Regions from separate parts of the Homo sapiens genome. Here all the other regions are linked to region 7. The links come from fine-mapping of genetic effects on gene expression. A gene starts in region 7. Each other region holds a variant in brackets. All regions are shown on one strand. Distances are from middle to middle.

Region 1 (4,065 bases), 170 kb after region 7:
AAGGCCTCCAGTGCTGTAGCAGGCTGGCACAGGAGAAGGTTTCCCCTACACTGAGCCAACAGTGGACCCTCGACTTTTGGAACCCAAGACCCTTGGAGAGCACAGAACAGTCTCCTCTTTTCCTCTAACAAGTCTTCAAACATCGAACATGCTTTTTCCGTCCTTCACTGACTCAGCTTCTCTCCAGGTGGAAGGTGGGACCCTGCAGTCCTTCCTCGCTGCCGGGGGGCAGGTCCCTCGACACCAGGGCCACCCTCCACGGAGCAGTCACCAGCTTGAGCTGCCCTTCTCCAGAGGTGGTGCCAAGTGGGCTGCAGGGATCTAGTGTGGTCCTGCCACGCAGAGGGCAGCAGTACTGCCCACTCGTTCCCACCCGGGCCCTGTTCCTGCCCACTTCTCCTCCCGTAGGCATCTGTCCCACCATGACAGTGAGGTCCCCGGCTCTCCAGGGCCTGTTGAGGTGCAGTAAATGAAGCCTACTCAGATCAGCTCACAACAGTGGACTTAAACCACCGGCATGGGAACACATCAAGGAACCCAAGAACTGAGGAAGTGTGGGAACGGGCAGTGGGGACCAGACTCTGCTTGGAAGGAGCCACTGCCTTCTCGAGCCACTGCCTTCTCAACCCCCACTCGCCCTACCCAGGGCTGTGCAGATCCTCACCCCCTCTCGGGCCCTCAGGCTCTCATCCTCCCTCTCCTGCAGATCTTCTGCCCCTGCACCTGCCTCAAACACTCCGATGTGCATGGCTGTCTCCATTCCAGTGCCACCATCCAACCAACCAACATCTCTGATCCAATCCCAAATTCCCTGGATTTGAATCTGATTGGATCCCCCTAGATCAAGCCCCCTCTCTCATCCAATCAGTGGTAGCCCAGGAGGGGCACGTCCCAGACATGGCCTTGGGGCCCTCCCAGTGGAGGGTGTGGGTATGCAGACCCCCAGCCATGTGCTATCTAGGCTGCTGACTCCATCCCTCCACCTCCCCACCCCAGCCCCCTGCACTCACACAGTAGACCCCTTACAGGACTTGTCCCCTTCTTCCTGAATCCTCTCCTCTGCCAAGATTGTCCCTCTCCCCAGTCAATGGATCTTGTTTTAATCCTAATTCTGGCTTCCAGTATAAATGCTCTCTCTCCATCCTGTGCTGTTCCTAAATCTGATGCCTGTGTCTGCTGGGTCCCTGGCTAAGCTGAAAACCACTGGCCTAGCCAAGGCTGGACAAGGCCTTGGTGGGGCAATGGTGGTTTCCCACCCAGGGCTCTGGAACCTGGAATTTGACCCACTGGACTAGAGACCTTGTTCCTGCTGCTGTTGCCCCTACCGGCTCTGTCCTTCCCACCACAGCCCTGCTCTCCAATACCCACCCCTGCCTGACTCCCAGCCCCAGCACAGTGCCCAGAACATCCGGGCTCCCCAGTGGCTGCCCCAGGCCCAGTTGCTTTCAGGTGGTGCTGTTCCACCCTCCCCCAGACCCGGGACACACCTCTGCCTTGGAGCCTCCCTGGGGAACCTTCCTAGAAGACAGGAAAGGACATTCACTTCCACTCGAGTTATCCTGACATCAAACCTGGCTGTGCAGAAAGAGCAGGTTCCTTCAGCTGGGGAACAGCCCTGCATGACGGAATTAGTGCCACTCCACGGCGCCTCCAGAAACCATGCCCACTGCCCACCAAGAGCCACGAGGAGTACACCGGGTCCTGAGAATGCACATCCCCTGCGGTGCAGCTTCCCCAGCCAGGAGCTTCGCAGGTATGCCCTACAGGGAGGAGGAGCTCTTCCACCAGCCCGGCAGCCCCCAGGTTTCAGGAACCATTTCAGCCACCTTAGCAGGGCTCATGTTCAAGTTTAGACTAACAGTTTCATGACCACATTTTTAAAAATTCTATTACTAATTCAGCTTCTATGGG[G/GA]AAAAAAAAAAAAGCCCAGCTTGATTTTCTAACTTGGTTTTTCAAGAAGCTGGGTAAGACTTCCCTATCTGACAGCAATGAGTAAATCATTACTCAGCACCTTGGAAGGACATTCTAGAGCTCCAGAGAGCTTTCGGGCCAGGAAGGTGTGCTGGGGAGCTGGACTCCTCTGACCACATTTTCCAGAAGTAAGCCCTTTACCTTGGTCTGCTCAAGGTACCGTGGTGTCGTGCAAGGGTAATGAAGGGACTGCGATGGAAGCCGGGCGGGAGACACGCCCTGGGACAGGAGGCTCAGGCCTCACTCCGTACTCTCTTCTCCACCAGCTGGAGGCCCTCCAATCTCACCATGCCCTAGGGACAGACAAACGGCATGTGACAGACACCCCCGGTGCCCCTCGAGGCACCCACCCCTGAGCCCACCTCTGCCTCAGCATCTTGGTGGCAGGCGCTAGCTGACCTCACACTCCCTGGCCCTGAAAGCATTGGTCTCACACCTGCCTCGTGCGTGTCTCCAGGCACATGGGAGTCTGCCCAGGCCAAGCACACACAGCTGGAAGTGTGGGGGTGAAGTCCCCAAGGGCAAACCTCTGACCAGGGGTGTCGTGAGCCAGTGGGTAAGCTGTCCTCTGCCCTTCCAGTGGACAATTTTGTCCCTACCCAGGAGGTCTCAATGGTGTCAAGCCTCAGGGCCCACAGCAGCAATCTCAACAGCCCTTGTGTTCGTGTTTCCTCCTCCTATTCCTACTCTCCACACTCCCATGCCTCCACTTTTTGGGATCTGCTCCGATAGCCCACCTGCACCCAAGTCTCAGGCCTGGCCTTCCAGGAACCCAAACTAAGATGCCATCTCTCTGCACACCACAGGGACACAGGGCCTCACGCGAGGCTGCCGCTGAGTCAGCTCTCCATAAAAACCTGCCAGAGGAATCAAGGAAGCTCCTGTGTCCTTCCTGGGAGGTGGTCCTTACAGGAAAGTCACACAGCAAATCTGTCATATGAACAGGGTTTCCTGACATGCAGGCCTCTCTCTGCCAGCCTCAAGCTTCACTTCAGCGAGTGCAGTCCCCCTAGGCTGGCGACACTGAGCGCTTCCAGCTGTCAGAGCCCATGGCATTGGCTGCCATCCATGCTGCAATCCACAGGCTATTAAGGGAGGCCCAGAGAGGCCAGAGCTGGGCCTTGTCACTGGCCCACAGAGTTCCTGTTACTACAGTCACCACCCAGACACTCATTATCCCCCCTCTGAGGCCTGCAAATGGCCCTGCCAGGGAATGTGGGGGTCATGATTGCTTTTTACTCAGTATCCGACTCAGGGCTAGGACATGGCTGTCTCTGAGGCTGGAGGTACAGCAAGGAAGGTTCCCACAGGTCCACATCAGAGGCCTGGACACAGATGGGGGCACAGCCCAGACCAGTGCACCCTTCCAAACCCCTTCCAGAAGAGCCCATTGGAAAGAAAAATTGGTCCCTCTGGGGACCCAGGAATTTGGACACAAGTGTCCCCGAGCAGGAGGCAGGGGCACCAGGAGGCCTGCACAGGAGGAAGGAGCCTGGCCAGAGGTCCTGAGCCCAGGGAACCCCTGCTGGCTCTGTCTGGCAATTCCTTTCTCCCTCCCAACGTGAAATGACGGGCTTTGGGCAAGACCCCCAGAGGTGAGTCCAGCTCCGACAACTGTTTCCAAAAACACAACCCCAGAGCACCAGGTCTGGGAGACAGACAGATGCTCCATGGACAAGGTGTTCATTGGTCTAATGTCCTTGAGAAGCCCTGCACACAGGAGGCCCCTCTTGAAGACTGACTTGGCTAAAGGCCCTGAGATGTCCTGCAGCACAGAGCCCTGTTTAACGAGTAGAGTCCAGACTGTCCCTAACTTATGTGACCACAAAAACCTTTTTTCCAAGGACATCTCCTCTTTCTAAAGCACAGACTGAGCACTGGCAGTGCAAGCCATTTGATTGGCTATTACCAAGGTTGCTCCGAGGAGTCTGTCTCCTTGGGATGCAAGGTGGAAAACATCCGCATAGAAAAACAGGTGTCTCCGGATGCTGTTCCTGAGACAATGCTCTAAGGAACAAATTAGGGAAACACCTGAAGCCTTGAGGGGAAACTTGTTTCCACTGGTGATTTATCTGCAGGTGGTCAGGGCGGAGA
Region 2 (4,065 bases), 100 kb before region 7:
AATAAACATGGAGGTGCAGGTGTCTCTTTGACATACTGGCTTCATTTCCTTTAGATATATACAGTATACCCAGCAGTGAGATTGCTGGATCATACGGTAGCTCTATTTTTAATTTTTTGAGGAACCTCCATACTGTTTTCCATAACAGCTGTGCTAGTTTACATTCCTCACCAGCAGTATATAAGGTGATATGGTTTGGCTCTGTGTCCCCAACCAAGTCTCATATTGAATTGTAATAATGCCCATGTTTCATGGGAGGGGCCCAGTGGGAGGTAATTGAATCTTGAGAGTGGGTTTTTCCCATGCTATTCTCATAACAGTGAATAAGTCTCGTGAGATCTGATGATTGTATAAAAGGGCAGTTCCCCTGCACAAGCCTTCATGCCTGCTGCCATGTAAGACATGTCTTGCTTCCCTTTTACCTTTCACTGTGATTGTGGGGCCCCTGCAGCCATGTGGAACTGTGAGTCAATTAAACCTCTTTCCTTCATAAATTACTCAGTCTCAGGTATGTCTTTATTAGCCACGTGAGAACAGACTATTACATAAGGGTTCCCATTTCTTCACATCTTTGCCAGTATTTCTTTTGTTTTTTGTCTTTTTGGTAATAACCATTCTACTTGGGGTGAGGTAATATCTCATTATGGTTTTTATTTGCATTTCCCTCATGATTAGTGATGTTGAGCATTTTTTTACACTCCTGTTGGCAATGTTTATGTATTCTTTAGATAAATATCTGTTCAGATCTTTTGCCCATTTTAAAATTCAATTATTTAGTTTTTTGCTAGTGAGTTGAGTTCTTTATATATTCTGGATATCAGCCGCTTGTCAGATGCATAGTTTGCAAATATTTTCTCCTATTCTATAGATTGTCTCTTCACTCTGTTGATTGTTTCCTTTGTTGTACAAATGCTTTTTAGTTTGCTATAATACCATTTGTCTATTTTTGCTTTTGTTGCCTATGCTTTTGAGCATAGGCAACAAAAAATCCTTGCCCAGGCCTATGTCCTAAAACATTTCCCCTATGTTTTCTTCTAGTAGTTTTACAGTTTCAGGTCTTACATTTAACTCTTCAATCCATTTTGAGTTGATTTTTTTTAATATGGTGAAAGAAAGTGGTAGAGTTTTATTCTTCTGAATGTCAATATCTAGTTTTCTCAGCACCATTTACTAAAGAGGCTGTCCTGTCTCCCAGTGTGTGTTCTTGACACCTTTGTCAAAAAAAATCAGTTGGCTATAACTGCTTGCATTTATTTCTGGGTTCTCCATTCTCTCACATTAGTCTATATGTCTTGTTTTTATGCTAATATCATGTTGTTTTGGTTACTATAGCTTTGTAGTGTATCTTGAAGTTAGGTAGTTTAATGCCTCCAGCTCTGTTCTTTTTGCTTAAGATTGCTTTGGTTATTTGGGTTTTTTTATGGTTTGGTACATATTTTAGGATTGTTTTTTCTATTTTTGTGAAGAATGTTAATTTTTTTGATCGGGATTGCATTGAAATTCTAGATCACTTTGTGCAGTATGAACATTTTAACAATATTAATTCTTCTAACCCATGAACATAAAATACCTTTCCATTTATTTGTGTCCTCTTCAGTTCGTTTCATTGATATTTTATATTTTCATTGTAGAAATCTTTCACCACTTTGATTCAATGTATTCTTGGTTTGTTGTTGTAGTTGTTGTTTTTGAGACACAGTCTCACTCTATTGCCCAGGCTGGAGGGGAGAGGCACTATCTCGCCTCGCTGCAACCTCTGCCTCCCGCATTCAAGCAAGTCTCCTGCCTCAGCCCCCCAAGTAGCTGGGATTACAGGTGTGCACCACCATGCCTAGCTAGTTTTTGTATTTTTAGTAGATACAAAACGGGTTTCACCATGTGGCCAGGCTGATCTTAAACTCCTGACCTCAGGCAATCCTCCTGCCTCAGCCTCCCAAAGTGCTGGGATTATAAGCGTGAGCCACCACACCCAGCCCAGGGATTGCTTTCTCGATTTCTTTTTCAGATAGTTTGCTATTGGTGTATGGAAACAGTACTAATTTCTGTATGTTGATTTTGTACCATGCAACTTTAATGAACTTATGAATTCTAACGGTTTTTTTGGTGAAGACTTTAGAAGATCACGTCATCAGCAGACAGAGAAAATTTGACTTCTTTCTTTCCAATTTGGATGCTCTCTATTTCTTTCTCTTACCTAATTGCTGTGGCAGGGACTTCCAGTACTATGTTGAATACAAGTGGTGAAAGTGGGCATCCTTGTCTTATTCCAGATTTTAGAGGAAAAGCTTTCAGCTTTTTTTTATTCAATATGATATTAGCTGTGGGTTTGTCATATATGTCCTTTATTGTGTTGAGATATGTTCCTTTTCACACCTAATTTGTTGGTGATTTTCATCATGAAGGGATGTTACCTTTAGTCAAATCCTTTTGTTGACGTTGATTGAGACGATCATATGGTTTTTCTCCTTGCAGAGTCTCATAGGAGTCCTCAGTGAAATGCAAGACAGCGCA[G/A]GTTCCTGACAGCATCTCTCCATCCAGGCCAAGGCAGACTGGCCGTCTCACAGCTGGATGGGGACACAGATCGAGTTCTGGCAACTGAAATGTGAGTGGACTTAAATGGGTCGCTTCTCAGCTAAGGCAATGGTAGTTCCCTCTTCTGGTGCATGGGCTGAGAGGGCCCCGTGTTCCAAGAGGCATAGCCACTGGTTGGTGAGGGGCTGTGATACGTGAACAAGCATGGGCTTGAGGGACTGGGGAAAGGGAGCGATTAAGAAGTGCAGGCCGGGCATGATGGCTCATGCCTGTAATCTCAGCACTTCGGGAGGCCAAGACGGGAGGATCACTTGAGGTCAGGAGTTTGAGACCAGCCTGACCAACATGGTGAAACCTCGTCCTACTAAAAATACAAAAATTAGCCGGGCGTTGTGGCACACGCCTGTAATCCCAGCTACTTGGGAGGCTGAGGCAGGAGAATCACTTGACTCCGAGAGGTGGAGGTTGCAGTGTGCCGAGATCAGCCATTTCACTCCAGCCTGGGCGACAGAGCGAGACTCCATCTCAAAAAAAAAAAAAAAAAAAAAAAAAAAAGAAGTGCAGCAATTAAGAATGAAGACATTGGGCGTCCGGGCGAGGCTCGGGGCGCGAGGATCGCGCAGCGCAGCGGGTTCGCCAGCCGGGGGGAGGGGCCGGGGCGGTGGCGGCGGCGGCGGAGGAGGCGGTGGCGGCGGGGGCCGGTACTGGACCCGGCGGGATGAGCGAGGTGGAGGCGGCAGCGGTGGCGACAGCGGTCCCCGCGGCGACGGTGCCCGCGACGGTGGCAGGGGTGGTAGCGGTGGTGGTACCGGTGCCCGCAGGGGAGCCGCAGAAAGCAGGCGGCGGGGCGGGCGGCTGCGGCGGGGACGCAGCCGCCTTGGACCCCGCTGCTGGGACCCCCTCGGCGCCGGGCCCCCGCACCCCTGGCAACCCGGCGACGGCGGCCTCGGGAACCCCCGCCCGGAGTCAGGCGGACAAGCCGGTGCTGGCAACCCGAGTCCTGCCTGGGCACTGCCAAACGGTTCAACGTCCGGAGTGGTTACGGATTCACCAACAGGAATGACGCCAAGGAAGATGTCTTCGTTCACTGGACAGCTGTTAAAAGAAACAACCCCAGGAAGTTTCTGCGCAGCGTTAGAGATGGGGAGACTGTGGAATTTGATGTCGTGGAAGGAGAGAAGGGCGCAGAAGCCACTAATGTAACTGGGCCCAGGGCGGCGGGGGTGCCCATGAAGGGCACCGTTATGCCCCCAACCGACGTAGGTTCCGCTGATTCATCCCCGGCCTCCCTCAGTTGCCCCACCACCCATGGTGGCAGAGATCCCCTCTCGGGGGACAGAACCTGGCGGCGAAGGGGAGCGGGCCGAAGACTCTGGGCAGCGGCCCAGACGATGGCGCCCCCCACCCTTCTACCTACGGCGGTTTGTGCGAGGCCCCCGGCCCCCCAACCAGCAGCAGCCTATAGAGGGCACTGATGGGGTAGAACCAAACAGACAGCCCCATTGGAGGGGCACCAACAGCAGGGAGATGAGT
Region 3 (4,065 bases), 96 kb before region 7:
ATTGACCTCAGAATTGGCCGCGTCTGGGGCGGCTCGAGGTTCCTGGGCTCTGAGCAAGCGTCAGCCTGTGAGGTGGAAGGGCCCAGGGCACAGCCGGTCCCATCTGCTCAACAGCGCCTGCGAAGAGCCCCATGGCCAGCAGCACACTCAGCTCGGCTCTGGCCTGCAGGGGGATGTGGGACAGGGAGGGGATGCAGTGAAGGCAGCGGTGGAGCCCAGGACGGAGTTTCTGTCCCTGGGAGTCTGGGCACACAGTGGGTCGCAGGGGAGGAGGAGGCCCTGCTGTCCTGGCATTGCTGTTGCTTCCACAACCTGAAGATGGCACCCAACCCTGACCTCAGCCCTCCCTACCTGCAGCAGCTCGGTCTGGCCTCCCAGCCCCAGACCATGTCTGAAGTCATTGAGTCCACACGGTTCCACCGCCTCCTTGGAAACCCTTTTCAGAGACTCAGAGTTGAGAAGCTGAAGCTGGGACTCGAGCTCTGGGGACCAGCAGACCTGAGATCAAGGACCAGCTCTTCTCCTTACTAGCTGAGGGGACTGAGCCCCAATTCTCCCACCTTTATAATGGCGGAACCAGAATAAAGATAAAACCTCCTCCTGGGGTTGCAGTGAGGATCTAATGAGACACGAGGAGACGCCCCAGCACAGGGCGTGGCACTCACCCTGTGTTCAATCATAGCTGGCCCTGTTATGACCGTTTTCATCCCCTTTACCATGGATGGCCTCTCATCTGGCCATTGCAGGTGACAGGTGTGTCCATGTCCCCTAGACATCCTGGGCGTGCTCAGCTCTCCTGGCTTTCAGCCGTTTGGCAAAACACCCTCCAGCTGATCTTGTATTTACCACAAGTCAATTGTGTTTGCCCCCGAGCCTTTTTCATGCCAGCTGTTCTTGATATTATGAAGGCACAGGTTAATTAAATATCATATAAGCTAGCAAGTTTTCAAACTAGTTGGGTTTGTTTGTTTGTTTTCAGAGGTGGGGTCTTGCTCTGTCCCCCAGGCTGGAGTGCAGTGGCATGATCACAGCTCACTGCTGCTTCAAATTTTGGTGCTTAAGTGATCCTCCCACCTCGGCCTCCCAAGTAGCTGGGACCACAGGTGTGTGCCACCACATTCTGCTAATTTTTATTTATTTATTTATTTATTTACTTACTTACTTACTTACCTACTTTGTAGAGACAGGGTCTCACCATCTTGCCCAGGCTGGTCTCAAACTCCTGGGGTCAAGGGATCCTCCTGCCTCGGCCTCCTAAAATGCTGGGATTAAAGGTGTGAGCCACCATGCCCAGCCTCAAACTGTTTAAAGATTCCTTTATACTCTTAAAAATCATTGAAGATCCCAAACAGCTTTTGTTTCAGTGGCTTGCATTGATTGATATTGACTATCTTCAAAATTAAAGATGAGAGACTTTCAAAGCACAGAGACACACAAGCACGCATTCCGTCGGCTGTCAGAGGCCAGGGCTGGGGGCTGGGGGCTCTGAAAATCTTTATTTGTACCTTCTGGAGAAAATGAGAGCATCAAGGGCAAACAACATCTCAGTTTGACCGTGAAAAGAATTTGGACTTTGGATTCCCTGAAAGGGTCGCAAGTGGTCCCTGGGCCACTCTCGGAGAGCCACTGAGGGAAGCTGATGAAATATTAATGCAGAAAGGGAGCTGCTCCCTGAATGCTAGGCTGGAAGCTTTGGAAAGTCCCAGCACAGATGAGGGTAATGATTTGGGGAAAATAATCACACAAATAATGAAGGACTCTGCCTCGAGATTGCCTTGCAAGCGCCTTCCAGTTCTCATGTCCCTTTAGAAACACTGAAACCAGAAATCAGTGCTGATTCACTGCTCTGTGGTTTCTGCCACAGAGATGACCCAGAG[C/T]TCCAATCAGTGGGCTCATGCTCAGAGAAAAGGTTTTGGCTCCATACCAAAAGGCAGACAAATAGATGTGCTGTACTTCACATATTTGAAGTAAAAATAAAATGTTTAAGAAATGTCTATGTGGTTAAGTAGGACTTCCCCACCCATCTAACTTGCCCAGCTAACGCTGCAATTACGGATGTTGCAAGAACGTTGACTCGACCCAGCCTTCCCCTGCTACGGTAAATGTCCCTCACCCCTCCACCCTCAGGCTGGACACCAGCTCCAAGTCTAATCCTTGTCTTTGACCATTTGGGGCTTGACTTTGCCTTTGACCTTGCCTCCATTGCCTGCCACATCCTTCAGTTAGTGACAAGCACAAGATGGGTCAGATTTGGTGGGTTCCAACACTGGGTCCAGTACTAAGTGTGTGACCTTGGAGCAGTCACCTAACCTCCCTGAGCCCCAGCTTCCTTTTCTGTAAAATGGGAAGTTACACATAAGCATACATATACCCCAGCTCTGTGGGTGCCGTCAGTAGTGATGTCACCATCCCATTGGTACAGTGCCTTTGAGATGGCCCTTCAGCCGTGCTTCCTACTCCCAGCCCCTGTGATCACTCACTTGGACCATAGAAGCCTCAGCCTTAGTCCTTCCATTTCCAGGCACTTCTACCTGCTCCAAATTAATGACCTAAATCCCTGCGCTAACCAATAATTCCTCTGCTCAGAAAATGTCAGTGTGGGAAGCTCAATACACCACTAGTTCAACCAAAGGCATTTACCCTGAGACCCAAACCCTCTTTGACCTTGTGCCCACTTACCTGGGTGGCTTCACCTCCTACTGCTACAACAATCGTGCCTGAGGACCATTGCTGAGGTGACCTGCCCCCACCTCCAGGGTCCAGATGCCATGTGGAGGGTATTACATGCGTGAACCCTTATCGCCATAAGGGCCTGAGTCTGAGTGCATACCCATTCTGCAGATAAGAAAACAGAGGCTCAGTAGCATCAAACCCTCTGCCTAAGGTCACACAGAGGACAATGGCAGAGCCAGGATTGTAGTCCAGGTCTCCCTGACTCCAAAGCCCAGAATGTTCGTATACTCCTTTCCGGAGGCACTGAGACCTTCCCTGCTCTTTTGGCCTTCCCTGCTCCCTGCCCCTGCTCACCCCAGCCCCTCCTCTCGGCATGCCTGCCCACCTTTCTAGATCCTGCCAGTCTTTAGGGCTCAGCTTAACGCCACCTCTTTCCTGATGCCATCTGGGTCACAGCCCCCATGCACCCTGCAGACCTCTCCTCTGCTGGAGGTTCTGACATTTGCACAAGGCCTGCATTCTTCTAGGCTCTCCCTGTTCCTTCCTTAGGAAAGTGAGCCTGGCCCTTACGGTGAGGTCCTCTTTCCCTGCTTCACACTCCAGAGCGGCAGGCCCCAACTTTTTGGCACCAGGGACCAGTTACATGGAAGACAGTTTTTCCACAGTTTGGTGGGGGGGATGGTTTGGGATGATTCAAGCTCATTACATGTATTGTGCACTTCATTTCTATTATTACTATACTGAAATACGTAATGAAATAATTCTACAACTCACCATCATGTAGAATCAGTGGGAGCCCTGAATTTGTTTTCCTGCAACTAGGTGGTCCCATCTGGGGGTGATGGGAGACAGCAACAGATCTTAGATTCTCGTAAGGAATGTGCCACCTAGATCCCTCACATGCACAGTTCACAATAGGGTTGGAGCTGCTATGAGAATCCAACGTTACCACTAGGAGGTGGAGCTCAGGTGGTAATGTGAGCGATGGGGAGCAGCTGTAAATAGAGATGAAGCTTTGCTTCTCACCTCCCGCTGTGTAGCCCAGGACTGCTACTGGCCCATGCCCGAGGGGTGGGGGATTGCCTGCTCTACAGCATCATCACACATGCCTTTGCCCCATCTAAGTTTGTTGAGTGAGTATTATGTGCAGTCACTGATTCAGGCTCTGAGGCTGCAGCCATGAACAGAGTTCCCACCTCAAGGAGCGGAGGTCCCTGATGGGCAGAGGGCTGCTGAAGCAGCAGCAGACACACAGATGGTCCAGTCTCAGGTGACAGCTGTGAGCAAATCAAGCAGGGAGGCTGGCCATGCAGGAGAGGTATTATTTTGTGTAAGTGGTCAGGGAAGGGACCGTAGTGAGGCGAAGGCACTGGCCTGGCCAGGGTCAGGGAA
Region 4 (4,065 bases), 55 kb before region 7:
CCTGAGGTTAAGGCGTGGTCTGACCTTTCTCAGAATGAGGAACTAAGCAGCAGCGACAGGAAAACATTTGATGAGCACACCGAGCACTTGCGCCCTTCAGCTGGGGGCCGTGTCGGGGAGGGAGGCAGAGCAGCTATGCAAACACCTCCGGGGGCGGCGAGGGGTCAGCTCGAGGTGACAGTTATGTCACCATGAGAGCTCGGCTAGTGTGCGTCAGCCCTGCTGGATGGAGGGAGACCACTCAGCAGGGCCGATTTCTGCCTCCAAAACACGGGAACCAGCAGGTGGGACATGGCAAGGGACGGCAAGTCAGTGCCTGCCTCAGAACAGAGTGGAAGAAGTCCTGGGCTGGGAGATGCAGAGAGCAGGGAGCGAAACCACACCTGGCACCTGCTAGAAGGCATGGCACCGGGACAGCCACCAAGAGCTCAGGCTCAGAGCGCTGGGGCTGAGGGAGGGCAGATCCAGCCTCTCCCTGACCAGGTCATACTCAGAGCAGCGGGAGCCATGCAGACTCCACAAGAGGGACATCAGCTCAGAAGTGTGACCAGAGCAGACTTTAAAGCATGTTTCTGGGGGGCAACAATGCAAAGTGAAAGAAGCAGGACATAAGACTGTCCTGTCACACCCATGTGCACACACACACACACACACACTTATTTGCATAGAAAAGTCTGGAAGAAAATACACCAAAACATAAATAGTAGTTATCTAGGTGAGAAATTAATAGTTTGAAAACAGTTTTCCAATATATGTTCCAAAATTTCCACAACAAACACGCCTTATTGTTATAATTGGCAAATACGTGGGGCCAGGAAGGTATGCCACCTGAAGAAGGGGTCCCAGGGGTCAGTTTCCCGGGGCTGCCAGGACAAATCACCACGAACTCGTGGTGCGTAATGACAGGACTTTCTTCCCTCAGTGTCCTGGAAGCTGGAGTCTGAAACCCAGGTGTGGGGCAGAGGTGGTTCCTCTGGGATGCCAGGGGAGAATCTGTTCCACTCCTCTCCTGGCTTCTGGTGGCTGCCGGCACTCCTTGGCACCCCTTGGCTGGTGGCAGCATCACTCCAGCCTCGTCAAGAGGCATGCTCCCTGTGTCTTAGGGTGGGTGAGGGTCTACCCTGATCCAGTATGACCTCATTTTAACCGGAGTGCATCTGCAAAGAAAGATCCTATTTCCAAATAAGGTCACAGTCATACACACTGGGGGAGACAACTTCAGCTTATCTTTTTGGGGGGCACAATTCAATCCATAAGAAGATGTAGTTGGCCCAAAGGAAAATAAGACACAAAGGGCTGTGGTCCCTGTCTTTAAATATCGCCAGCCTCTCCTGTTTTGGAAGGATTAGACTTGGTCTGTCTGACTCTATGGAGAAGAAAGAGGACCAATGAGTGGATGTTTCCCCAAAACAGACCTGGTCTCAAAATAGGAACACAGCTGTCCTAAGCTACACTGGCCATCTTGCGCGGAGAATTCCCTGACTCAGAGGGCCTCGGATTAGACAGGTGCCCCCTTAGCTCTGATGTGGAAGTATTGGAGGGAGCACTGGACCAAATAATTTTCAGGTCCTGGCAGCCCTGAGATTCTGCATTCACACAGGCATAAATGATGCAAGCAGTGCCCAGTGCCAGCCAGGCCGCCCCATAGTGGCTGTTCAATATCCCACTACCCTGGCCTCACCCACACTGGGAAACCCTTGATCTTAAAGCAAAGCTGCTCTGCTCAGCATTGTTCTTCCTTTTGGTCTCTCAAGGAAAGCTGGAAACTGTACATTCAACGCAGACAAGGATAAAGGCATCAACCACGTGGAGAGACACAGAATTCTAGGAGTTAAACCACGTGGAGAAGCTTACACCCCTGATTCTAAGGGTGTTTCCCTCGCCTTGACAGTACCAAGGAACCGTCCTGTGCCCCTGGTCAGGCCTGCTGGGGCTGAAGTCACACAGACCAGGATCAGAATGGTTAAGAAAACCATCTGCAACATGTGTCAACTCAGTGGGGACAGCCTCAAGAATAACACTTACGTAAGAAACAGCAGTAACGTTGCAAGTTCCGTTTATTTTTGTTTGTTTTTATTTTATTT[TA/T]TTTTTTTTTTTGAGATGGAGTCTCACTCTGACACCCAGGCTGGAGTGCAGTTGCACCATCTTGGCCCACTGCAGCCTCCGCCTCCTGGATTCAAGCGATTCTCCTGCCTCAGCCTCCCGAGTAGCTGGGACTATAGGAGTGTGCCACCACATCTGGTAATTTTTGTATTTTTAGTAGAGATGGGGTTTCACCATGTTGGCCAGGCTGGTCTTGAACTCCTGACCTCAGGCGATCCACCCACCCCGGCCTCCCAAAGTGCTGGGATTACAGGCATGAGCCACTGTACCCGACCTGTTTAATTTTTTCTAAAGGAGACAAAATCTTATTTGTCATGAGAGGGGAACACTGTTCTTCAAAAGTTCCTCTTCTCACCCCAAATACAACACACAGAAACTGCTCACCTCTCCACAGGGTCCCTGAGCATGACAATCAGTCTGGCATTTGGCTGAAAGGCGTGGATGAAGTCCTGCGTCAGAAACGGTGGCTCGCCATCCGTGCTGTTGTCGTAGAAGAACGTCCAGGCATTATTATCCCACATCGTGGAGGCACTGGCCTCCCCTGGAAACAGAAAACACTCCAAGTGAGCAGGGGTGTGATTCAGGCTCCCACGGAGTGGCTCTAGGTGCCAGAGGCCACACCTGGCCCCGATGCCTTCCTCTTAAGCAGCGGGAGAGGCCAAGCTGTCAGCCTTTGCGGGCATCTGGGACTCCAAAGAGAGAAGGTTGGATGCCCCCCCCTGCCACAGCCACACCCCACCTCCACCCCAAAAACTTCTGTCTGGAAGTCCAGGCGATCCATGCAACACTGAGTGCCCCCACCCCTGAGCTCCTCTTTCCAAGGGGAGCAAAAATGAAACCTTCCCTAGCACCTGGGCCCCCAGTTTCACAGTATTTAACTTTGCTCACAGTGCACAGCTCTGTGGCATTTTAAGGGCCCACTGAGAATGCAGTCTGTCAGAAAAACACGCCAAAACATAAACAGCAGTTATCTAGGTGGGAAATTATAGGTGGTTTTGAAAATGGTTTTCCTGTATAGTATTCCAATATATGTTCTATACAGTAGATGGTTCTAGTAATAATAGATGGAGTTCTCTCTGAACTGGGGGCCCAAGATGATGAAAGGCCTTGACATTTCTGCCCAGGATCTAACAAAGAGAAAGAGCTGGGGCAGAGCTGAGCCACATTTCAGAGCCGGGAGGAGCCGAGAACTGGTCTAGCAGACCAGGAGCCTGGAGCTGGTACTAGATGATTTCCTTCCAAAGCGTCAGGAGAAAGGAGGAGGGTGGGAACACTAACCCTTATGAGGAATTTGAGTGTGATTTCCTTCCTTGAAGCTGTAACTGTTCATCACAGAGCATACTCTAAGACTAAAAGAGAGAGGGGCTTTGCCACAGGGCTCACACGCCCTGTCTCCTGCGAGGCGACTGCTCTGCACGCAGCTGGCGCCTACTCAGTGCAGCCTGGGTGAACGGGAACTGGGTCCCAGCCAGTTTCACATTTCATCATGGTCCTCACGAGTGAAGGATGTAAATGGCAAACACACGTCCCAGCACAGAGGTGATGCCAAGACACAGGCAGGCATTCCAACAGCACAGACTCTCTCAGAGGATGAAGCCAAATTTCCTGAGGGTTTGAGGAGAGACAGTGTGTGTGCGTGTATGTGTGTGTGTATATGTGTGTGTTTAGGAAAAAGGAAATTCATCAATCAGCTCTACACTTGATTTCCTGACAGTTTGCCAAGGACCACAGGACACATCTGAAAGTTACTTATCTGGGGAGAGACTGAGCCAGATGACTGAGTCTCTTTGGTCAGTGACAAGTGTATCATATCCCTGCAGGCCCCTATCATTTCTGTCGGATGCGTAATCACATCCAGGTGAACAGCTCTGTTCTGGCCTTTTGTTCTTTCTTTTTTTAAAGAGATAATACCCTAGGATACAGAAAAAACGAGTCAATCAGAAGTCCCTTGAAAATTCTACT
Region 5 (4,065 bases), 68 kb before region 7:
CCTGGCTTCCCCTCTTTCCAGGGAAGGCAATTCTGTGACTCTCATTCTGCACCCATGCATCCAGGTATCTGACATCCATATTTCCGTCTTCGTTTTTTTTTTTTTTGAAGCGGAGTTTCGCTTTTGTTGCCCAGGTTGGAGTGGAATGGCGCAATCTCGGCTCACTGCAACCTCCGCCTCCCGGGTTCAAGCAATTCTCCTGCTTCAGCCTCCTGAGTAGCTGGAATTATAGGCGCCTGCCATCACACCCAGCTGATTTTTTGTATTTTTAGTAGGGACAGGGTTTCACTGTGTTGGCCAGGCTGGTCTCGAACTCCAGACCTCAGGTGATCCACCCACCTCAGCCTCCCAAAGTGCTGGGATTACGGGCGTGAGCCACCACGCCCAGCCGCCATCCATACTTCCAAACGCTCCCAGACCTTCAGCCACATACTACCCTGCAAAAACTGTGCTCCCTTATAGCAGGGTCTGTTGCAAATGCGCCTTCTCCACTGCCCTCCCCTCTAATTGAGGTCATGATATGAGGAGCAGCATTTCTTAGGGACAGGCCCAGAAGCTATCCACCTCCGTAGCCCACCTTGGCACATCGGGTGCCTCTGACACAGCCCTCTAGAATTCATCCACGGCCAATGTCCACAGAGGACACCTCTTGGAAGTCTTGAGCAGTTTGAGATCTACCCACAGAGTTCCTAGAATCAAAACACCCACCGGAACAGGAGTGTTCCATCTACCACAGCCTGGCCAGCCAAACTGTCCAAAGAGACAGTCAGCAAAGGGGCTCGGTGGCCACTGAGTAGATTTCCCCAGATCCACACTCGCCTGAGAATATTCCCCAAGACAACACCACATCAGCTTATTACTGGTGTCCCCAACATCACCTGTGCTATTTTCCTTCTTCAGAATTAGAAGACACATCAAAACTGAAACACGGCATCTGTCGCCATAGGGTCGCTCATGGTTACTATGACCTAAATGGCTGGTCAATAAGTGCCAAAATCAGACACGCGTGAACCTTCAAGCAAGGTTTGGCTGTGTGCACTGAGGGGTGCCAGGTGGCAATTGGTCTGAGGGGTACCCTTCCTGGCTCACACATTTCCTATGAGTCCTGTCAATAATATGGCTCAGCCCAAGAAACTACGTCAATGAAAAGTAACAGATGCTTCTGAAACTGTCATAAAATCCCACGTTAAATAAGTATTCGAAGCCCAGTTTTTACCAAAGATGCCCACAGAACTACCCAAATTGTTTGGTGGAACTGGAATTCCATCACATAAATTACCTCACACAAACCCAAACACTGGCTGAAGGTTTCCATACTGAGAATTTTCTTTGTGGTAATAACATTTCTTGCAGATATTTGGCTCATAAATAAAACAAAAGCACCTAAGCTTGTCTTGATTTTAAATACAAAGTCACTTCATGAGGAATCTGCTGATTCCATACAATTCTTCAGAGATCAAGAAGTAATCCCTAGGAAAAACTGGGACATACCTACTGTTCCAACCAGGCAAGCCCACCCCTAGCAGGTGAAACGGCTGATTTTCATCTGTTTGAGGTGGGTTAAAGTGAACTCACTACCTCACTTCCTGTGAGTCACATGTACAGCCTTTGAGAGCCAGGCCACGCTCCTTCCTCGGCTGGATGAAAAGAGACT[C/T]CTTTGGCCTCTCAGTCACCTCTGGGTACTTTGGATCTGCTCAGAGAACTGGCAGTGGGCTTTGGGAGCCCCTCGAACCCCACTGCGAGAAACTATGCTGGGTCCCTGGCATCCTGCTGTGTCACAGACATCTGAACAGGGACTAGATTCACCACAAGCCATGGCCACCATCTGGATTCCGTAGTTGGATGGATAGTGGACACCAAAGAATTATGTCCAAGTCTGAAGCCCAGCCCCTGTGAATGTGACCTTTCTTGGAAATAGGGTCTTTGCAGATGTCATTAAGTGTAGGATCTTAAGACGAGATCCTCCTGGATTTACGGTGGTCCCAAATCCAATGGCAGGTGTCCTTATAAAAAGAGGAGAGGACAGACAGCACCACAGAAAGACGGAGACAGAGCCTGGAGTGCGGCGTCTATGAGCCAAGGAACGCCAAGGACTGCTGGAGGCCACCAAGAGCTGGGAGCAGGGGACGGCTTTTATCCCTTAGGGCCACCAGAGGGAACCAACCCTGCAGACATCTTGATTTAGGACTTCTGGCCTCCAGAATCATAAGAGACTACATTTCTGTTGTTTTAAGAAGCCAAGTTTGTGGTGATTTATTATGACTGCCCTAGGAAACCAGACAGATTTTAAACCCCAATTCTAAGGAAGACCAATTACTCCAAGGAGTTATTTTTGCCAATACTTCTCTGCCACCCTGAGACCCTGGAACAGTGGCCCTGAGGGTAGGGGAGGACTGGGGTCATGTGGCCACATTTCCCAGAAGGAAGCATGAAGGAAGGCAAATGCGGACAGGAGCACTTCCCTTCAGGGGAGCACTCAGACAGGGGAGCACTGAGACGGGGGAGCACTCTTTGGGTTCTCCCCAAGAATTAAGCGAATGCTTCCTAAGATTGTCTTCAAGTAACAAAGCTATCATTTCCCCCTTGACTACTCTCCAGGGGAAAAGAGTGAGTTAATAATCTTGGGTGGGGGAAAGCCACTCGGATAGGTTAAAGCCACTCAGAAAATGCTGAGAACAGCAAACATATCAAGAACAAGTATCCACTGGACGTCAAAAGGCCAGACAGGCACACTGTGGAACAAGATGAAACGTACAGAAACAAACTGAAATGTCTACCTTTTAGTCTTCAAAATCCACTATCCCATGAGGAAGTGGGGGAAGGAGACCAATGTAATGGAAAACACACAGCTCACGATCAATCATCACAGAACTGCAGGGGCACGGATGCAACCCCAGGATGCATTAACAGGGGCACGGCATGAGGAATGTGGGAGGGTGGAGCCAGGCGACAGGCAGCTCACGGCCTCAGCGGATGCTTGCTTTCAGTGCTGGGCACCAAACCTGGCTGCTCTCCCTGGAGATGCAAAAACTCAGCAGGAAGGAGCCCAGTCCCGAACTCCTGAAGGACTGACCAGCGGGCAGAAGGTTCGGGAAGAAAGCCTGGTTGCAGGCAAGGGGAAATACCTCCAGTCAGGGCAGGCTAACACGAGGGGATGGTCCTAGAAGGCAGGAGCAGCCTAGGCTGGAGGGAAGGAGGGCTCCAGGATAGCGTGGGGGCCAGGGGACATCATACCCTCCCAGCCCTGAGTTTCAGGGCTGCCCAGCCCCCTCCAGCTGAGCCACCTCATTTTCTTACTCTCAAACCATCCCGAACAGATGGGTATTACATTTGGCCAGGACTGTTTCCAACGACAATTCCAAATATAAGTCCAAATGCATTCCAGGCCTTCTGTGCTGCGGTTATTTTAGAAGGCTGTCGGCGCGGCCCCTCACACTGGGCCCGTGCTCATGGGGTACTGCTCAGCCCCTTTCCTGTGCAGTGCAGGGGTCCTGGGACCCCTGGAGGAGCGGTGGGATGGGAAATGTATGTTAGGGGGCATAGGGCTCCATCAATCCAGTGCCTCTGAAAGTGACCATGTCTCTCCCCAAGGGACAAAGGAGAGGCCAGCAGTGGCAAGGCCCTACTATGTAAAATCTGGATGATTACAGCCAAGACCACTGCTGGATTCATTCAGGGACACTTACAGCCAAGACCACTGCTGGATTCATTCAGGGACACTTACAGCGTGCTGTTCTGAGCCAGCGAGCAGAGGTTGGTGAGTTGATCACTATTAAAGCAGGAGCTGCTGCTGCTCCTCCCGCCAGGGCTCTGTGTGATTGCTTTCCGGGTTTAGTACCTGCAATGTTCTCAGTTTCCACTCCTGATGTGGATGCTGGGGGGTAGGGAGGGCCACCACCACCATGCCCTGTACAGGGTGCTGCATGCATGCTCTGCGTCTATCTTCACAACCCCATAATGAGATGTGGGCCACCCCATTTTACTGGGGGAGAAGGCTGACACTAGAGAGGTTAAGGAGTTTGCCCATGGTCACGCAGCCCAGGAAGCTCCAGGGCAGGGCTGGGA
Region 6 (4,065 bases), 27 kb before region 7:
ATAAAAAAAACTTGTTCAAAAAATAATAAGTGGATCTTGGCTGAGGCACAGTCATCTCCCACAAAGCAAACGATCTATGGTATGAGAAATTAGTAACCTCTCTGAATTAATCACAGAAGAGTGGAATCTTTCTCATAAGATCTGGAAAGAATTCAGGCCTCATTATGAAGGCCAGGACTTTCTTGCAGATAGCAGATTTCCTCCTGGGCTAAAACGAAATCTCAAAAAAAAAAATAGACTTACGAAAAGTCATTGTAGCTGACTGGTTCAAGCTGACTGGTACAATCAAGACCTGCTCTGGTTTCTGTTTCGGAAAAGTAAATATTTGATCAAAGCACACAGTTTTCAGACCTGAAGTCATTTCAGATTAAGTAAGAATTTCGCTTGATGCAGTCAAAGTGCCTGTGTGATGGCCTCCCCATCCCCAAGGCCTTCCCCATCCTTGCAAAGGTACAGCAGTGGCCACGGAGCAGAACGCAAGCCCCTGACTGGGAGTCCATGGGGATTCAGGGTGCGCAGCGTAGGCACAGCCCTGGCGCTGTGGGGCTTGCGGCCCGGGAGACACCACGAGATCATGAAACAACCATACCCACTCTGTGACTTTGGGCAGGTCCCCCAAGCCCTGAGCCCCTCTTCGTTGCTGGGCTGTACCTGGGAACATTCAATCCCCCTTGCAGCACTGCATCCCCCCAACCCCACCCCCGAGCCCCCACTCCTGCTGGCGGCCTTTATCTCGCTGTCTCTGTGTGTCCATCTCTGCCTCTCCCAGCCTCCTTAGCCAGATCCCATTTTCCCCAACACCACTGGCCCTGCTAGATGCATTCGCTCTTGCTCACCCTTCAGATCTCAGGCAAGGACCCCTTCCCTGAAACCCCAGACCACACTGGCCCTGCCCTGATCCTCCAACCCTTCCCACTTCCGTTTTTTGTGTGTGCTTGTCTGACTAGCATCCGCCTTAACCAGCTGACAGTCCTATCAGCTCTGTGAAGGCAAAAGAGTCTCTTCTTTTGTTCGCTTTTACAAAAAAAAGTCCTGAAGAAAATTCTAAAGGTAGGCAGGCAACACACATAAAAACATAGCCCAGTCATAAAGACAGAATGCCCAATACATGTTGGGGGCGGGGGTTAAATTTAAAATTTGGGCTGAGCGCGGTGGCTCTTGCCTGTAATTCCAACATGTTGGGAGGCCGAGGTGGGAGGATGGCTTGAGCCCAGGAGTTCAAGACCAGCCTGGGCAACAAGGCAAAACCCCATCTCTACAAAAAATTTAAAAATTAGCCAGGCATAGTGGTGGTGCCTACAGTCCCAGCTACTTGGGAGGCTGAGGTCGGGGGATCTCTTGAACCAGGAGATCCAGGCTGCAGTGAGCCATGATCATGCCACTTACACTGCAGCCTGGGTGACAGAGCAAGACCGTATCTCAAAAAGAAGAAAAAAAGTAAATAAGTAATAAAACTTGGTAGGTTTTACAATTCTGCCTCTAGGCTTAGTCTCTATGTCACTGAAAACCTGTTTCTCCATGACTTTCAGGCAAATTGTTGTCACCCAACCCTGCTGTGGGACTGCTGGGGGTTGGCCCCAGGCTTCACTGGCCCTGGGGTTCCCGACACCCACAGAGAGCTACTCCCTGCCCCTCCCCCGCCAGTCCTGCTGGGAGCAGACACAAGGGTGATTCTGCGGGCCCCATTACGGCAGCTCATTCCCACCAACCTCAAGAGCCCCTTCCTGCCTCTTCCAAATTAGCTTTCACCCTTAACAAAACATGCCAAAATGATATGTCTCAGTAAATTATATGATTCTTACCTGTGGCCAGAAGTCTTGTTTTTTCCGTTTTGTTTTGTTTTGACCCATTCTCAGTTTCGTATAACCCTTTCAGGCAAATTTCTGCACCCAGAAGATATAATTTTTCAGCACATGCCGCAAAATCCCAGGTACTGAGCTCAGGACAAAAAAGAAGGGGGAAAAAAATCCCTCCTCCCTTTTGGATCATTTGCATTCCTTTCCCGTAAAGGAAACTTGGAAACGTTTCAAAAGCATCGAGTATTCGGAATCAACTAAAAACCCGAATTCTTCTGTCTTTTTGT[CT/C]TTTTTTTCTTATTTGGTCCCCTCAGTCACTTTTTCCCCTCTTCTACCCTTCAGAAAAGGCAAAATACCAGTTACCTATCTAATAAAATGAGTGCCTCCATTTAATCAATTTGAGAGATTCACTGGGTTTTATGGGAGGACTAGATTTGGGGGTTTAAAACATTATTCCTCAAGTTACAGAGTGTTGGGCTAGGAGAGCTTTGAGCGTCGACCAGCTAGGGGAAGGGGGAGGAGGCTGAAATGGAAAGAAAGAGACGGATGTTTCTCAAACTTCTTTAGCTAACACACTGCGAGTCTGGGACTCGAACCCAGGGCTGTCTCTCTCCACCACCGCCAAGACGTGTTCTGTCACTGCTTCTGCATCTATTTCTGGGACTGACCCACACCTCCTCTTATGTAACTGGCTGGGGGAAAGAAAAAAAAAAACGAGTTTACACGGTCACAAAGCAATTTGCAATTATCTTCTTTCTAAATATTCATAAGCTGGGATTATTTTCCCCTTTGGATGACAACACAGTCGATGACATCGCTGGAAAGTCTTTGGTTGACTTAGTTTTTCTGAGGTTTTCACACCCAAAACCTTGAGCAAAAATGAAGGATGATGAACAAATCCCAAAGGTGCTTTTCCTTAGAAATGGCCAAAAGCGTTCACCTTACAATTTAAGCAAGAGGTGGAGACCTTTCATCTTAGGATGGGGGCACCCCACCTGGGCTGCCATGCACCTCCCTCCTGGGGAGGTGGGCTCCAGCCCAGCCACAGCTCATTTCCTGGGCTGCGTCTCCCTGTTCCCCTGAGCAACCAAGCCCAACCCAGCCACAGCTTTCTGAGATGAAGCCAGCACTTTTGGTGACAGCACATGCCTTGGGCTTAGCCTCCTCCTTTTGTCCCATTCTTCCTATCCCCACTAGGACCTGAGCCACCCGCAAGGCGCTCTGCAGCTGGGGCAGAGGGGCCATTTGCACATTCCAGAGTAACTGGCTGCACTTAGCACTGTGCCGGGCATGCAGCCCCATCTGAGTGACAAGACAGTCGCACCCCAGACTCCACATCCTGCACTTAGTGCTGGGAACACCAGGACTTCTGCAAGTGGCAGACTTCCAAACTCCCTTAAAAATCTCTTTGGGGATCACAAAGAAGAGATTAGGAACATTTTTCAGAGCATGAAGCCCAGATATTTATCGTCCATGGATATTTTCTGGCCAGTGATCACATTCACATCATTCGTGGAAATCTCTGGCATCTACTGCACTTATTCAGACCAATTTGCTCAGTAATCAGTGCAGGTGCACTTCTGTCCTGCTTCCTAAGATATGCAATCCAGTTGGGCATGGAAGCCGCTAGAACAGAAGCTCAGATCCAAACTGAGGCACTTGAGAGATCACACTGTCGGAACCTCTCATCTCCCAGATAAGGACCAGGAGCAGGCCATCTGCCCCAAACCAAGGCTGACTTTCAAGCCTGATAAACAGGGAAGTTGGAGACTTCTTCTGCATGTTGGGCAATTAAGCTTATAAGTGGAAGTCTGCGCCCTCAACTACTTTCAGAAACAGATTTAGAAACAGATGGTTTTTGTGTTTTTGGTTTTTTTGAGACGGAGTGTTGCTCTGTCACCCAGCCTGGAGTGTAGTGGCATGATCTCAGCTCACTGCAACCTCCGCCTCCTGGGTTCAAGCGATTCTCCTGCCTCAGCCTCCCAAATAGCTGGGATTACAGGCGACCACCACCATGCCCCGCTAATTTTTGTATTTTTAGTAGAGACGGGGTTTCACCATGTTGGCCAGGCTGGTCTCGAACACCTGATCTCGTGATCCGCTGGCCTCGGCCTCCCAGAGTGCTGGGATTACAGGCGGGAGCCACTGCGCCTGGCCTAGAAACAGAAGTGAGTATCATTTCCCCCAAGGAGAGTTGGGTTTTCAAGTTTCATTAAAGGTTGTGTCTGCGGGTGCAAAGTGAAAATGATACATTGAGGCAATTATCCAG
Region 7 (4,065 bases):
TGCAGATGCCCTCCGAGGCCTTTCTGCCCCAACGCTGGGTGGCTACCCTAACCCACCGAGGCATCCCACAACACTCAGGAATTGCAGCTGATAAAGAGGGGCTGGGGGCACTGCTAGGGCGCCCAGAGGCAAGGTTAGCCCCTTTGCTCAGCCTCACTGACCGGCTTGTCACATCCCTCTGCGGGGCATCCCGGAGCCACACTTCATTCCCGAGAACTCGGTACAATTAACTTAACCAACGTGAACAAGGCGAAGGCGCCCAGCTGTCACAGCGGCTCCGCGCACGCAGGCAGACGAAGAAGGGCCCCCGCCCCCAGGAGCTGGTCCCAGCCTCCAGCCTGGCAGCCTCCTTCGAAGACTTCCCTACACTGGGCGCGGACCTCCAGCCGCCAGCAGCCGGCAACCCAGCCCCAGCCTTCCTCCTCTATACCCGCCGTCCCAGCCGCGCCGGCCGGCCCCGGGCGCAGGGCGGGCGGGAACGTGGGCACCCGGACAGCGACGGGGAGGTCAAGCAGCTGTGCCCAGGACCCGGGCGGCTCCGAAGCCTCAACACGCACACACTCGCGCGCACGCCGGCCCATCGGTTGCCTGGAGGAGTCGGGAAGGTGCTTCCACGGCTCTTCATTCATTTTCCCAAAGGCAAGGTTCCCTTCGCCCCGGCGCCTCTATCCTGCCATCCCAGGGGGCCAATTGCGCCACAGCCCGCCACCCAGCCACCCACAGCCACCGCGTCCTATCTCCCGGCACACACAACCCAACAGACTCGCATTACATCTCCACCGCCAGCGTCGCCTCCGCGCCCCGGCCGCTGCCATCCGGCTCCCCAGCTTCGCCGCCCCGCAGCCCCGGCTCCCCGCCTCTGGCCTCACCGCGCGGCTCAGAGCTGCCTCGCTCGGCTCGCCGCACCAAGGCCGGCCAGAGACGCCGCCACCGCCGGGAAGCGCCGGCAACTCCCGAGTCACGCCGCCTCCCGAGACGCGGCGGGGCGCAGGGAGGGGACAGCAGTGGGGGCGGGGCGGGGAGGAGGAAGGAGGAGGGGGCGGGGAGCAAAAGTTCACACCGCTCGGGGCTCAGCCGCTCCCCTATCTCTTCCCAGGCCCGCCCCCGCCATCCCCCTTCCCTGAACCGGGTCCCACGGGCTTAGGCGCGGGAGAGCTCTGGCCTCCCCGCCCGGAACCGCCGCAAGGCTAGAGCCAGGGTTCTGGAAGCGCATCCGAGCTCGCAACCGGGGAGAGAGTGGCGGATGCCCACTTACCTGCCCCGGGCCGCGCCTGGAAACTTCCCCAAAGTGCGATAGGGGTGTGGGGGCGGAGCGCAAGGCTGGGGGGAATCCCCGTCCCCTACCGCCAAACGACGCGCGCTCACACCGTGAAAGCACTGGTCTGTCCGTCGGTCGGTCCCCCGCCTGCGGCTCCCAGAGCTGGGCGGTGCAGGGGCGCCCCGATTCCGACTACTGGGCTCCTTCTCCCGGACAGCCCGCCGGTGCGTTCCACGCGGCTTGCGCCCCCCGCCGGCCTCCGGCTATCCACGGCGCCACCACGCCACTGCTCGGTCCCCTGTCCCCTCGCTCCGGCCGCGTCCTCTCTGCGAGGGAGGGGGCGTGTGTCGCCGCTGGGTAACCCTTCCCGCGGGGTCCTCAAGCGCGCAGGGCGCCCGGAGCGCGGCCAGGACCAATGGCGAAGGGACTCCTCCCGCTGGGGATCGCTGAAGCCTCGGGGAGGCCGGGCCAAGGAGCCCGGGGCCCAAACCTGCCTCGGCTCGTCGAGCTCGCAAGTTCATTGTCTGCCTGGGCCGCCGCCGCCACCGCCACCGCCACCACCGCGCCGGGAGCGCCGCGGGGAGTGAGGCTGCGCGCCGCCTCCGCCGGCCCGGACTCCCTACGCCCAGCCCCGGCCGCCGCCGGCGCTGCCTGGCCCGAACCCGCGGAGGGGCGCCGGAGCCCCGAGCCCAGGGCCAGACCTCCTACCGCCGCTCCTCGCCGACCCCACCTCGGCGTCTGGCACCTAACTTGTACCTGAGAAGCCTGAGTCCAGCCCGGGAGCCTCTGCGGCTCCGGCTCCGCGGGAGCGCGCCCAGCCCCGAGCCTCTAGCCCCGCATCCAGGGCGCGTCAACCTGACTCCCCGAGCGCTGGGAGGAAAAGTTTGGGAGTGACGTGCAGACGGCGAATGAAACATCCGAGGAGAACCCTCCCCCCGCCCCATGTCGCGCTGACACACATCAGCTCCAGTCTGGAATGTGAGATCAAGGCGTGTGCGCCGAGCGGTGGGTTTGGCCCCTGCCCCCTCCCCCTCCGAGTCAACACTGCTTGTGTGTTGCGGTGATTCCAAATAAAAGCACATCGAAACCCCTGAAATCTGGCAGTGACACCTTGCCAGATACTTCTTTTTTTTAAAGACAGAGTTTCGCTCTTGTTGCCCAGGCTGGAATGCAATGGCGCGATCTCGGCTCACTGCAACTTCCGCCTCCCGGGTTCAAGAGAGTCTCCTGCCTCAGCCTCCCGGGTTCAAGAGAGTCTCCTGCCTCAGCCTCCCGAGTAGCCGGGATTACAGGCATGCGCCACCACGCAAAATAGGCTAATTTTATATTTTTAGTACAGACGGGGTTTCTCCATGTTGGTCAGGCTGGTCTCGAACTCCCGACCTCAGATGATCCGTCCGCCCCCCCAACCCAAAGTGCTGGGATTACAGGCGTAAGCCACCGCGCCCGGCCGCCAGAGACATCTTTAAGGAACTTGGCGGTCTGGAGCCAGCCCGTACATTAATATTCAAGGCCACAGCGCTGGTGAGTTCGGCGCCCTCTGTTGTATTTTTGCATCCCGGGAAGGCTGGCCCGGCTCTTTGGCCCGGCGTGTTTTGCTTCCGCGGGGGAGGTAAAGCTCTGCAGGACCCCGATCGCCACGGCCTGCCGCAGTGGCCTGGAGTCGGCTGCCCCAGGGAACCACCTGGACAGCCCGAGGGCAAGAAAGCGGCACCAGTGGCCGACTCCACTGACTCTGGGCTGAAGATGCCATCAGTTAAAGAAAAGACACATGAAATTCTGGCAGATTCGCTCAGAGGGCGCTTGGAGCACCAAGCCCAGCCTCTCAGGAAACTGAGGTCCAAGGGACAAAAAGAATCTGCAGTCTCTTGCCGGCCTGTGTCCCCGTGGCCAGAGTCCAGCACCCTCTTCCTCGAAGCAACCAGAAGTGGAAATGAAAGTGCTCCGTTAACTGTAGACTACATGCCACCGAAGGGTCATTCCTGACAGTGGCTTCTCCCCATTATCTCTTTATTGCCGGAGGCTTCATCTCGCCCCCCTGAAGCTACAGTCCACCCTGAGGTCATAAACTTCTGCTCAGCACCCATGGCAACTAATGCAGAGGTCACCATCAGAGGATTATAACTGCAGATGGGAAACCGGGATGAGAGGGGAGTTCTTTAAAATCCTGTCTTGTTTTCCTGCAAATAATGCCTCTTACATAAAATCTGCGAAGAAAGATGAATGCAGCAAAGAGACTTGCCTTAGAATCTCAGACTAGATTGCTTTTTCCATATAGACTCCACTTAGTGATTTTTGTTCTTTATTTTTTTTTTAAACAAAAACCTATTTCTGAAAATACAACGAGCTGCTTTTTGCAGGGTTCACAATTCCCAATAGATGATGATGCCATTTTTCAAGGTCTCACACACGTTGTGGCTTTGGGGCTTATTTATTAGCTCCCAAGAAAAGCCTGCCTTTCAGTGAGGTTTATATACTCGAGTAATTGCATCAGGGGACACAGAGCAGGTTGCTGTTAAAGAGGGTTGGTTGTACATGCGTCTGCAAGGAAGGCCCTGGGCCAGGCAGCTGTCAGACCAGTGTGCAACGGGTTTAAACAAACACAGGGAAGGGTCTGTGGAAACAGCAAGGAGGAAATCCCCTTCTGTAAGGGTGTGTGGAACATTATTCCAGGGCCACACATACTGCCAGGGAATAATGCCTTTCCTCTCCTCCCTCCAAGTAAACACATAACTCCGTTATGGAGATGGCGCTGGGCCCACCCAGATCACTTTCAAATTCAGGTGTCAGAAACCACGGTTGACATG

Alleles and levels. Positions count from the first base shown, and alleles are read on the strand shown. Sizes are in standard deviations (SD) of each study's normalised expression. Not every link is listed here.
For the expression in fibroblasts of the gene that starts at base 2,144 in region 7, allele T in region 3 goes with a higher level than allele C (large effect, 0.92 SD a copy in GTEx).
For the expression in activated naive CD4 T cells of the gene that starts at base 2,144 in region 7, CT is the low allele of the variant in region 6 and C is the other (large effect, 1.3 SD a copy in Schmiedel 2018).

The links.
Region 1: its variant is fine-mapped to the expression of CHST15 in monocytes after R848 (Quach 2016, PIP 0.95). The same link has a PIP of 0.9 or more in monocytes after Pam3CSK4.
Region 2: its variant is fine-mapped to the expression of CHST15 in whole blood (TOPMed, PIP above 0.99).
Region 3: its variant is fine-mapped to the expression of CHST15 in fibroblasts (GTEx, PIP above 0.99). The same link has a PIP of 0.9 or more in whole blood.
Region 4: its variant is fine-mapped to the expression of CHST15 in whole blood (INTERVAL, PIP above 0.99).
Region 5: its variant is fine-mapped to the expression of CHST15 in whole blood (TOPMed, PIP above 0.99).
Region 6: its variant is fine-mapped to the expression of CHST15 in activated naive CD4 T cells (Schmiedel 2018, PIP 0.95).

The regions. Positions count from the first base shown.
Region 1 is chr10:124,264,619-124,268,683 of GRCh38, forward strand. No RefSeq gene overlaps it. Among named protein-coding and RNA genes, the nearest start is that of OAT, 150 kb to the right of the region's middle. The variant G/GA (reference allele first, on the strand shown) is at 1,912.
Region 2 is chr10:123,988,498-123,992,562 of GRCh38, forward strand. It overlaps the pseudogene YBX2P1. Among named protein-coding and RNA genes, the nearest start is that of CPXM2, 99 kb to the left of the region's middle. The variant G/A (reference allele first, on the strand shown) is at 2,512.
Region 3 is chr10:123,995,700-123,999,764 of GRCh38, forward strand. No RefSeq gene overlaps it. Among named protein-coding and RNA genes, the nearest start is that of CHST15, 96 kb to the right of the region's middle. RefSeq lists an enhancer at 1-31. The variant C/T (reference allele first, on the strand shown) is at 1,878.
Region 4 is chr10:124,036,028-124,040,092 of GRCh38, forward strand. CHST15 (carbohydrate sulfotransferase 15) reads right to left here. Exons shown (of 8, transcript NM_001270764.2): 5 at 2,488-2,644. Among named protein-coding and RNA genes, the nearest start is that of CHST15, 56 kb to the right of the region's middle. RefSeq lists a silencer at 144-193. The variant TA/T (reference allele first, on the strand shown) is at 2,085.
Region 5 is chr10:124,023,755-124,027,819 of GRCh38, forward strand. All of the region lies in intron 5 of CHST15 (carbohydrate sulfotransferase 15), which reads right to left. Among named protein-coding and RNA genes, the nearest start is that of CHST15, 68 kb to the right of the region's middle. RefSeq lists enhancers at 1,720-1,889, 2,595-3,591. The variant C/T (reference allele first, on the strand shown) is at 1,655.
Region 6 is chr10:124,063,962-124,068,026 of GRCh38, forward strand. All of the region lies in intron 1 of CHST15 (carbohydrate sulfotransferase 15), which reads right to left. Among named protein-coding and RNA genes, the nearest start is that of CHST15, 28 kb to the right of the region's middle. The variant CT/C (reference allele first, on the strand shown) is at 2,084.
Region 7 is chr10:124,091,455-124,095,519 of GRCh38, forward strand. CHST15 (carbohydrate sulfotransferase 15) reads right to left here and starts at 2,144. Exons shown (of 8, transcript NM_001270764.2): 1 at 2,015-2,144.